Regions from separate parts of the Homo sapiens genome. Here region 2 is reported to be linked to region 1. Evidence: microRNA targets listed by miRTarBase, many of them from high-throughput screens and not tested one by one. Region 1 holds a microRNA gene; the other region holds the end of a gene's coding sequence.

The links. Region 1 holds the annotated microRNA hsa-miR-495-3p (AAACAAACAUGGUGCACUUCUU, at 2,281-2,302, shown strand). A microRNA usually pairs through its seed, bases 2 to 8, with sites in the 3' UTR of a target mRNA and lowers its output. Matches are read on the target gene's strand: a 7mer-m8 pairs with bases 2 to 8, a 7mer-A1 pairs with bases 2 to 7 and ends in A, and an 8mer does both.
Region 2: miRTarBase lists PCDH1 as a target of hsa-miR-495-3p. Seed matches in the 3' UTR shown: 7mer-A1 at 1,206-1,212.

What each region holds. Positions count from the first base shown.
Region 1 is chr14:101,031,524-101,036,697 of GRCh38, forward strand. MIR495 (microRNA 495) reads left to right here and starts at 2,232; the gene lies at 2,232-2,313. LOC124903407 (mucin-2-like) reads left to right here. Exons shown (of 5, transcript XM_047432049.1): 5 at 1-2,959. It overlaps MIR543 (microRNA 543), which reads left to right and starts at 464; the gene lies at 464-541.
Region 2 is chr5:141,849,757-141,854,756 of GRCh38, reverse strand. PCDH1 (protocadherin 1) reads left to right here. Exons shown (of 5, transcript NM_032420.5): 5 at 321-1,667. The coding sequence ends at 715. Among named protein-coding and RNA genes, the nearest start is that of PCDH1, 26 kb to the left of the region's middle. RefSeq lists a silencer at 4,832-5,000 and an enhancer at 4,732-5,000.

The DNA of each region.
Region 1 (5,174 bases):
AATCCCTTGCGCTACCCATTCTATGACGACTCCCTTGGCTCAGAGGCTCCATCAGGGCAGACACTTTGCTGTTTGTCCCTAAAGGGTGGGTGGTAGATCTCATCCATCTTATCTGGGGAGTTATTGTGACTCTCCTGGTCCCTCCTCATGTATCCTCAGGAGGACTTTTAGGATGCAAAATCACTGTTTCTGTGCCATTGTCATATTCTGTGCTACTGGAGGAGACTTTTTGTTATTGAGAAATTGAACACATCGTGCTCACAAGCAGCTCCAGGACACAATGCCACCTGTGCAGAGGGGGCAGACCTGTTAGATGTCTCCCAGGTCTTGAGGGGGTTGTATGCACGGCCATATCTTTGTCACCGGTTGCCCGGTGCGCATCAGGACCCATGTGCTCTCAGGAAGCCCGCAGGAGTGATACCAGCCGCGGAGAAGCAGTGTTGTCAACGGTGCTGACGTGCGGTACTTAATGAGAAGTTGCCCGTGTTTTTTTCGCTTTATTTGTGACGAAACATTCGCGGTGCACTTCTTTTTCAGTATCCTATTCTGCCTTGAAGACGTCTTGGTTTGGGTGCAACTTCAGGGAAGGCACATGGGCCCCTGTAGTGGACGCTGATCAGGACCTCCCTACCCCATGTCTTTTCTCCTTCCTAAATTTCTCCTTGTTTTTTTTTTTTTTTTTTTTTTTTATGAAAGCTCCCGTCTTCCCGCCGTGTGCTTTGATTGCATTGACCCTGCCCCACTTCCTCCACCAGCCCAGGCTTAAGCGAATCTCTTGATCTCTTCTCCTTTGCCACTGCAATTGCTTCCGGAATAGGCCCATGACCCCACTGGGCCAGTGATAGGCAAGGAGATGCTTGCTGCAGCTTCTGGGAAAGAAACTGTTTCTCCCTTTCCTGTGATAGCTGCCAGAGTAGACACTGTCTATTCCATTCAGCTGGGAATAGACAGTGAACTTTGACGTGAGCTTCGAAGGTCCCACAGCCGTTTAAGGACTGAGAGGAGAGGGCTTGGTGCCACGCAGACACAGCAGAGGGAGTCTGTACCATGAAAGGCATCTTGGAGACCTAGAGAAGAGCCTGGATGATATCATTTGAGTCCCTAGATCAAACCCTGCCTGAAGCTTGCTCTGTCTCTGTACTTTTTAGTTATATACGTCTATAAATCCCTTACTTGTTTAAGCCAGTTGGAGTTAGATCTTATCTTACTTGCAATACAAACAGATGATACCACAGTGTGTTTTCCAGTGTGACTGGGAAAGCCTGCATTTTTTTCAATGATGTGTTTCTCACGGTTTGCCTATCTATCTTCAGTGTCCTATTTAAGGCAGGGTTTTGGTGGAAGGTGACTTTTCTTATGGACTTATGCTTTCAAAGCTTTGTCTTAGTGATTTAATTTATGGTTGACAAATGATGCACAATTACCGTGTTTTGTGTCCAGCAATGGGTCACTGGGTCCTCTCTGGAAGGCCTGATGGATGGTGGGCCCCAGAACTTCTGCCCCGATTCACTCTCCCTCGAATCCACCTCTCTCTGGGAGGCTGCCCTGCAAGTGATGTGGACTTGGGGAAGCCGTTGTCCTTTCCTGGCCCCTGCTGTCCTTTGGCTCTCTGTGGGTTGGCTGTATTTGTCACAACTCACACTTAACTGTCAGTGTTTTAGAACCAAGCCATGCCTCCAGGGAACCCGGAGCACTTTAGAGAGGAGGTGCAGTGGTCAGCACCATGCAAGGTGCACAGAGAGATGGGTCCACCGAGAGCCGGGGCTGCCTTGGTGGTTTGTTTCTCCTGATTCGATATCTTTGTCTTCCCATCTCCTTCCTGGAACCATGGGCTCATGGAGGAGATTCTATTTTTGGGTCCAGGACCATCCCATTTTCTCTGAAGTGATGCTCTCCATGAGCATTTGCAGGGTTGATAGTAAACATTCCGAAAGCCGTCTGCCCTGATTATTGAATTCTGCCCATGAAGACTTCCTGGGATCCCGAAGTAGAGGGAGTCTGGGATCGGTTTGCTTTATCCGTGATGACTGTCCGCCTCTGCTCAGTGTCAGCCCAGCCCTTCGAAGCATGTCCCCCACCTCCCCTGGGGTGAGCCAACTTACCTGATGCTTTTAGGCTTAATTGAGCATAAGTTTGATTGGCAGCGTCTGCCCGGCCCTGCCCTCACGCCCTGACCCTCAGTGTCCCTTCACGCCCAGGTGTGCCTCTGGCAGGGAGGACGTGCTCATCTCTGGTACCTGAAAAGAAGTTGCCCATGTTATTTTCGCTTTATATGTGACGAAACAAACATGGTGCACTTCTTTTTCGGTATCAAATATCTCCTTGAAGTGCCTCCATCCCCGACGGGACCCTGAGCATGGGACCTGGTGTCACTACCTCTCTTGGTATGTACATGGAGGATTTGTCCTGGCAGCCCCTCGGTGACTTTGTGTGTTGGTGGGCTCAGGGACCATGCTCAGTCCTCAGTCCTCAGTCCACGCCCACCTCTCGGACAGGCACAGTTGGCGAGGCCTCAACCACATGCCAGTTCCCCGCTGCCAGGGAGGCTGGGGAGATGCACTTCCAGGCTCCATTGAGAAGCGTTCCCCAACATTTGAGAAGAGTTCAGATCATAGCAGCCAAGAAAAAAATAAAAAAGGAAGCAGCTGCCACAACAACAAAAACAAATAAGCAATGAAGACCCCTGCCCCCATCCGCTCTCTCCAGAGGCTTGAGGGGATGGCTGAAGGGGACATGAGGACATGCCATCTGGGGGACTGCCACCCGCACCTCCACAGAAGAATTGATTGGGGGTAGCAATTGTGGCAGAAGGCGTCCCTGTGGTTCTGGGAGATGGGATTTCTCAGAGTGGTGATTTACTGGAGCCTAATCCTCCCTGCCCCGCTCTTTCTTTACTTTTCTTTTCTTTTTTTCTTTCTTTTTTTTTTGACACAGAGTCTCGCACTGTCTCCTGGGCTGGAGTGCAATGGCACGATCTTGGCTCACTGTAACCTCTGCCTCCCAGGTTCAAGCGATTCTCTTGCCTCAGCCTTCCAAGTAGCTGGGATTACAGGCGCCCGCCACCAGGCCCAGCTAATTTTTTGTATTTTTAGCAGAGACGGGGTTTCACCATGTTGGCCAGGCTGGTCTTGAACTCCTGACCTCATGATCCACACCCACCTTGGCCTCCCAAAGTGCTGGGATTACAGGCATGAGCCAGTGCGCCCAGCCCCCGCCCCACTCTTTCTAGGTGCCAGTTCTGCCTCTGAGAGATGTGCTCCTTGATCACCAGCATCAGAGAGATGGTGTCTGACATTGGTGTCTGCCCCAAATCGGGAGCAGTGAACAATGGCTGACGGCAGAACACATGCCTTCCCGAAGACACTGCTGTCCGGGTGTCCAGTCCCCACATTCAGTCCATCCTTGGGCCCTGGAAGAGAAGAGGTTTCCCCAGTGTGTTCATTTTATTTGTGACGAATCATTTTTGGCCACTCTTTTTTCAGTATCAAATCCCACTTGAAGGGAAAGGCTGTTTGAGCTGGGAGCTTTGGTGGCATCAGCAGCTCTCTGGGGTGAGTGATGGGTGTTGCCCAGAGAGCATACGCGTCATCCCCACGGCCACCTGGTCCTCTGAACCTCAGCATCCCTGTCCCCCGAACCTCAGCATCCCTGTCCCCCAGGAGGGCTTCCTGGAGCTCTGCCAGCCAGAACTAGAGGCTGTGGGACTGCTCTCCGGGCTACACTTTGGTACTGGAGGAGAGGTTATCTGTGTTTTTTCCCTTTATTTATGATGAAAAATATGGTGCACTTCTATTTGAGAATCATGTGCCATCGGGAAAGGTCAGAACCCACTTCTGGAAGGAGATGCTAACGGCAGTCCATTGGTGACACTGGGACCATGCTGGCCTCAGCAGGTGCCCTTCAGACAGTGGGCAGCTGCTCCACCCATCCTTTGGGCTCTGGCCTCCCTCCAGAGAACTTCCCGGTGGCAGAAACACTTTGGAGAAGCAGCACCGGTCTTCATGTCAGGACATTCCATCAAGAAAGGCTGTCCAAGCTGTGGCCTGCATAGTCAACCTGTTTTACTCATTTGAGTGCCACCTTTCTAAATGATGGGGTGCCCACTTCAGGGAAGGTGCAGCTGTGGGAGCAGAAGGCAGGCCCCACAGTCTGTATATGACACGTGCCACTTGGCCGGTGGACCCTCAGCCTGAGGACCTCTGGAGGGGACACTGGCTCTGAGTCCCCTGTGGAAGGGGAAGCACAGTTGTTGGATGACGCGACATGGACAGTTCTCTTTCGACCAGATCCTTGTCTCCCATCGAGGGGGGATTCTGCTCTCACTGCTGCTTATGTCAGGAGAGGGTCACTGTTGCCTCCATCACCTCAGGTACGTCAGAGGAGGGCCTCAAGGAAGCCTTGCATCTCTGATGGTACGTATCCTTGTGTGTTAACCCTTGCCGTCTGTTTCCTTTGCAGGAGGACACCCTGGGCTCTGGAAGAGAGACAGCACCCCAGAAGCCGGCCAGGAATGGTTGGAGGGAGGCTATTGGTGATGTGTTCACTCTGTGTGTGGCAGATACCCCACAGTGGACCTCCTAAAGCACTGAGTGCCTCCTTGAAGGACTTGCTGTACGTGGTGTGAAGTTCAGGAACACAGTGTGGGTGTCTGTCAGCCCCTCGCAGAGGGTATGTGCGCAGATGGTGGAACAGCTGGCAAGTGTTTTCCTTTATTTGTTTTTTCTTTTGAGAATTGAGACTTTATTGAATGAATCACCATATAATCCTGTTTCCTAAGGTAAATCTATACATAAAAAGTTAGGTCCTACACCACCAATTTCTTGTTAAGAAATGGACCAAGAAATATGAACAAAACCATGTGTAACACAGTTTTCAGAGTTTTAGAAGAATGGCAAAATATACACTAGCTTGTCTCTTGATTGCCAAAGCTTAAACTCTAAAGAATAGGGAGGACATAGGTATACACTGGAAAAAAAAATGGCAAATACGTGAGGAGGATGGGAATGTTTGTGACTACATGGGAGGCAAACTGATTTTTTTTTTTTTGAGACGGAGTCTCACACTGTTGCCCAGGCTGGAGTGCAGTGGCGCAATCTCGACTCACTGCAAGCTCCGCCTCCCGGGTTCATCCCATTCTCCTGCCTCAGCCTCCTGAGTAGGTGGGACTACAGGTG
Region 2 (5,000 bases), not on the chromosome of region 1:
GAGGTTGCAGTAAGCCGAGATTGCGCCATTGCACTCCAGCCTGGGTGACAAGAGCAAGACTCCATCTCAAAACAAAGAAAAAGAAAAAGAAAAAAGATAGATTATGTGTGTGTGCGTGTGCGTGTGTACAGTAGGCCAGTAGGTCGATGGTGGGAGGGCATGTGTCTCTTTGAGGGTGTGTGTGCCTGTGAGTTCAGCGGTCAGGAAGGGGCGCATACTCCTGTCCTGAGGTGGGGTGTAGATGCCAGTGGGAGGCCATGAAGCAGAGCTTTGCAGAGGCTGTATGTCTGACAATTGTCCTTCCCCGCTCCCTCCTACAGACCTTCGCCCTTTGCCTGATGTCGCCATGACAGGCACATGTACCCGGGAGTGCAGTGAGTTTGGCCACTCTGACACATGCTGGATGCCTGGCCAGTCATCTCCCAGCCGCCGGACCAAGAGCAGCGCCCTCAAACTCTCCACCTTCGTGCCTTACCAGGACCGAGGAGGGCAGGAGCCTGCGGGCGCCGGCAGCCCCAGCCCCCCGGAAGACCGGAACACCAAAACGGCCCCCGTGCGCCTCCTGCCCTCCTACAGTGCCTTCTCCCACAGTAGCCATGATTCCTGCAAGGACTCGGCCACCTTGGAGGAAATCCCCCTGACCCAGACCTCGGACTTCCCACCCGCAGCCACACCGGCATCTGCCCAGACGGCCAAGCGCGAGATCTACCTGTGAGCCCCCTACTGGCCGGCCGGCCCCCCTCCCCCAGCCGCCGGCCAGCTCCCAAATGGCCCATTCCAGGGCCTCACTCTCCACCCCTTCAGCGTGGACTTCCTGGCCAGGGCCCCAAGTGGGGGTATCACTGACCTCATGACCACGCTGGCCCTTCTCCCATGCAGGGTCCAGGTCCTCTCCCCTCATTTCCATCTCCCAGCCCCCAGGGGCCCCTTCCCCTTTATGGGGCTTCCCCCATCTGATGCCCAAGAGGGCTCCTCTGCAATGACTGGGCTCCTTCCCTTGACTTCCAGGGAGCACCCCCTCGATTTGGGCAGATGGTGGAGTCAAGGGTGGGCAGCGTACTTCTAACTCATTGTTTCCCTCATGGCCGACCAGGGCGGGGATAGCATGCCCAATTTTAGCCCTGAAGCAGGGCTGAACTGGGGAGCCCCTTTCCCTGGGAGCTCCCAGAGGAAACTCTTGACCACCAGTGGCTCCCTGAAGGGCTTTTGTTACCAAAGGTGGGGTAGGGACGGGGGTGGGAGTGGAGCGGAGGCCTTGTTTTCCCGTGCTGCTCCTGGACTGGCCCACCTGCCTGCCACATGCCCACGCCTAGTCCCATCTGGGCCCCCATTCCCTGCTGGTCATGCAGTGTCTGTATATAAGGACCTTGGAATGACGTCCCCATTTCTGCCTGATTTGCAACTTTTCTTGTTGATGTCGTGTTGTCTTGGGGGACCCCTCTGGGGGGGGACCTGCCCTGTGCCCCCTCCTCCCTGCCGCAGTGCCCCCCAACCCAGGCCTCTATTGTTCCATGTTGTAAATACCCCTGGGGCCATGGTGGGATGGGGGTGCAGGCCAGGGAAACAACGGGTGGGTGGGGGTGGGGACGGGGGTAACATTTGCCTATCAGCAGAGCTGGGCTTTTATTTAATTTTTCTTAAAAATACAAATCTCTATTTTTTTGGAACTGTTGCGCTGTGCCCTGGGGGGATCCCCGCTCAGGCTGGCCTCCCACATCCAGATGAGCATCACAGAGGGGCCCTGAGGCTGTGGGGGGCAGCTGGACAGGGGTGGGATGACTGTGCCTCTGGCCTGGTTGGGTGAGTTGGGAGCAGGAAGGTTTGCTCAGGGGGTGGCTGGGTGCTGCTCCCGATATAGGGGGCCTGCATCCTGCCCCCTCCCTGCCCTCTCAACCCCCAGCCCCTGCCATGACTGACCCGTCAGCCTGTAAAACCACCATTGCCTTGATCTCAGGGGGTGGGAGGGCTGCCTCAGGGCACCCTGGGCTCCAGGCCCCCTTCTTCCAGTTGGGCTTCCCTTTGTCAGGGTCAGGGGTCCCATGGGGGAGGGGGTAGGGAGGTTGGGGGGCAGAGAAGCCCAGTCAGCCATGATGAGGTGAAGTTCTCTTCTTCACCTCAGGGGGCCAGGGTGTAAGGGGCGTCCTGCAGAGCCCCCGTCTCCCACTGTGGCCATCTCAAAGCCTCAGCCCCTCTTCCTTCCAGAAACCCCCACTGCCTTGGCCCATACCTCTCCAGCTCCCTAGGGGCCCAGGCTGGGAGGCTGGAGACTCAGGGTATGGCCCTTGCTTGACTTAGTCTAAGCTTGGGGAGGTGGTCCAAGATTGCGAGCGGTGGGTACAGGCTGCGGGGTCGTCTGGTGCCTTTGGGAGCTGTGCTGCTGGGGTCTTGACTCTTGTACCCCAGAGACCCCACCCCCACCCCGGAAAAGCCAGGGGCCTGAAGAATCACCCTATTTATCTGCCCCTTACCCCCAACTTGGCTTGGGGTGACAGTGCTAGGAAGGAGAGCATTGTTAGGCTGGTAGCCCTGGCATACGAAGCCCTTCTACAGAGGGGAAGGGGTAGAATGGGATGGGGTGGCAGCAGCCAGGTCTAGGGGTTGGCCAAAGGCTCCTTTCCCTTGGGGAGGCCCAGGAGATGGGCTTGGGGCTTGTTAAAGAGACAGCCCCTTTCCCCTGCACAAATGGGGCAGGTGCAATAGTCTTGGAGTTGGTAGTATTGGGTGCCCAGCTGGTGGAACAGTGGCCTCAAGGATTGTCCTGGGTCCTGGAGGTCAGGATTCGGGCAAGAAGATTGTATGAGGCCCATTTGCTTGGTGGAGAAGGTGGTCCAGACAGGCGGCATTCCTGGGGTCAGTGGACTCCCACTGGAAGCCCCTAGTGGCCTGGGTACCTTGCCCTGGTCTTAGAGACCCCTGAGCACTGAGCAGAAGAGCAGAGGAGCATTTTGCACAATGGAGAAGCCAGAAGAAAGAGGGTGGCCCAGATGGCTGGGAGAGCTGAGAAGCCCTTCCCACAGGCAAAGACAGAGCCCCCAGCCCCCTGGTTGGGGCCAGGGCACTGAGTCTGTCACCAACTGGGCACTGGAGAGATGAAACCAAAGGTGGGCAGGGGTTGGCGACAGCACTGGGGACTATCCCTGTGGGTCCTAGGTCTGTGAAGCCCCTCCCCAATGCCTGTGTCGCGTACAGTTTTATGTACCAATAGGCGACATTTGGCCAGAGGAGAGCCCCCCTCAAACCCAGCCTGACCCAGTCTGTGTCTTCCCAGAGGGGACCTAGTCGGTCCCCATCCCCCTACTTCAGGGCATGTCTCTCCGTAGGGGGAGGGTATATGGGGACATATTTCTCTCCTAGGGTCCTTGAAGCATGTTTCACATTCCGGGGTGGGGGGAAGTTCTCTGGGCATCCCTCACCTCTGGGGTCTCTCTAGGCCCTATCTCTCCCCTTGGGAGTCTCCGGGGGACATGTGTTCCCGCTGAGGACCACGGGAGCATGTCTCCCCCAATTACCCAGGCTCTCTGGGGAGCCTGTTTTCCTCCCAGGGTTCCTGGGAGTACTTAAGGCAAGTCAGTTTCGGGCCATCTCTCTTCCCAGGGAAGGGGGCTATCTCTGAAACACGTCTGGGAAGGGATGTTTCTGGCCCTACCCCCATCTCTCCTATGGGGGTTTCTCTGCCCTGCAGCACTTTAGGATGAGGCTGGGCATCTCTGAGTTGTCTTTTCTCCTAGGAGCCCTGGGATACCTCTCTCTCCCGAGGGTAGGGCCTCTGGAGCCATTTCTTCCCTGGGTCGGGGCTGTCTCCGGGTGTTGGGAGGGCTTGTGTTGGCCATGAGAAAGTCTCTTAAGGGGCGTCTCCACTGGGGACTTCTCTGGGAGGGGGGACTGTGTCCCGCCCATGGGGTTTCGGGCGGGTGTGTCTGCCCATGGGGAGGGGAGACTGTGTCTCCTCGGGTTATCTAGTGGGGAGGGGGGCCGTGTCTCTCTCGTGTGTAGGGGGGTGGGGGTCGGGGTGGGGGGTTTTGGGCGCGTCGGGTGCCCACATTGGGGTCGTGTTTCTCTTGGTTCGTGCCACTTCCCACTGCCTCGCTCCTCCCGGGAAGGGCCCCCGCCCCGCCCCACCCCACCCCATCCCTGGCGCTGCGAGCACAATCCCGTTGATTTGTAATGATTTCTGTCTCTTTCTGTCTTTCTCTTTCTCTGACCCCCCCACCCCCACCCCCACCCCCCCCCACCCCGCCGCGAGCATGCGCAGGCACCGCCCCTACCCCCTCCGGTTCGGTTCGTTTCCGGTTTGTTTGCTGAGCTGTCAATGAAAGACCCGTGTAATTATTCCCGAGCTTTACAATAAAAGTGTGAAAACCGGACCCCACTCAGCTTCTTCCGGGTCCTCGGGCCTGCGTCCCGTGGAGAGTGGGAGCTAAATCTGGAGGCCTTGGAGAGGGCTGGGGGACGCGAGGGACAAGAGACTGAGACCCGCACTGGTATTAATCGGGGATGGGGTCGAGCTGACGCGTTCTGAGGATAGACTCCTAGTCCGTACACCTCAAAGTGACCCCTGCCGGATCCTCTGGGCCCGACCTGCTGTGGGCACCCCCTCCCCGCAAGAACTCAGGTGCAGGATGGGGTGGGAGGTGACCGCAGGAGAGGTTTTGTGCTGCGCTGCCTTCTTCCCCGGGCGCCCGCAGGACGTGCAGTCGTTCCCGGGTGTATCCATTCCCGCTCCCCACTCTTTGGCAACGAGTGTGAATTGCGGAACTGGATAGGATAAGGGGCGGGAGACATCTGTCTGTCTGCCGCGTTCTCCCACGCTCAGGAACGAGGGTTGGAAGTCGATTTAGGGGAAAGGAACCGAAAAGGTCTCAGCCTCGGTCTCCGACTGCGCTCCCCTCCCCCCTTCCGGGCTCGACCGGCCCCGGCCTCCTCCGTCCGGCTCCCGGGTAAACACCCGCTCCGGAGAGGTCGGAAAACAGAGACCGGATCAGCCGGTTCCTGGCCCCGCC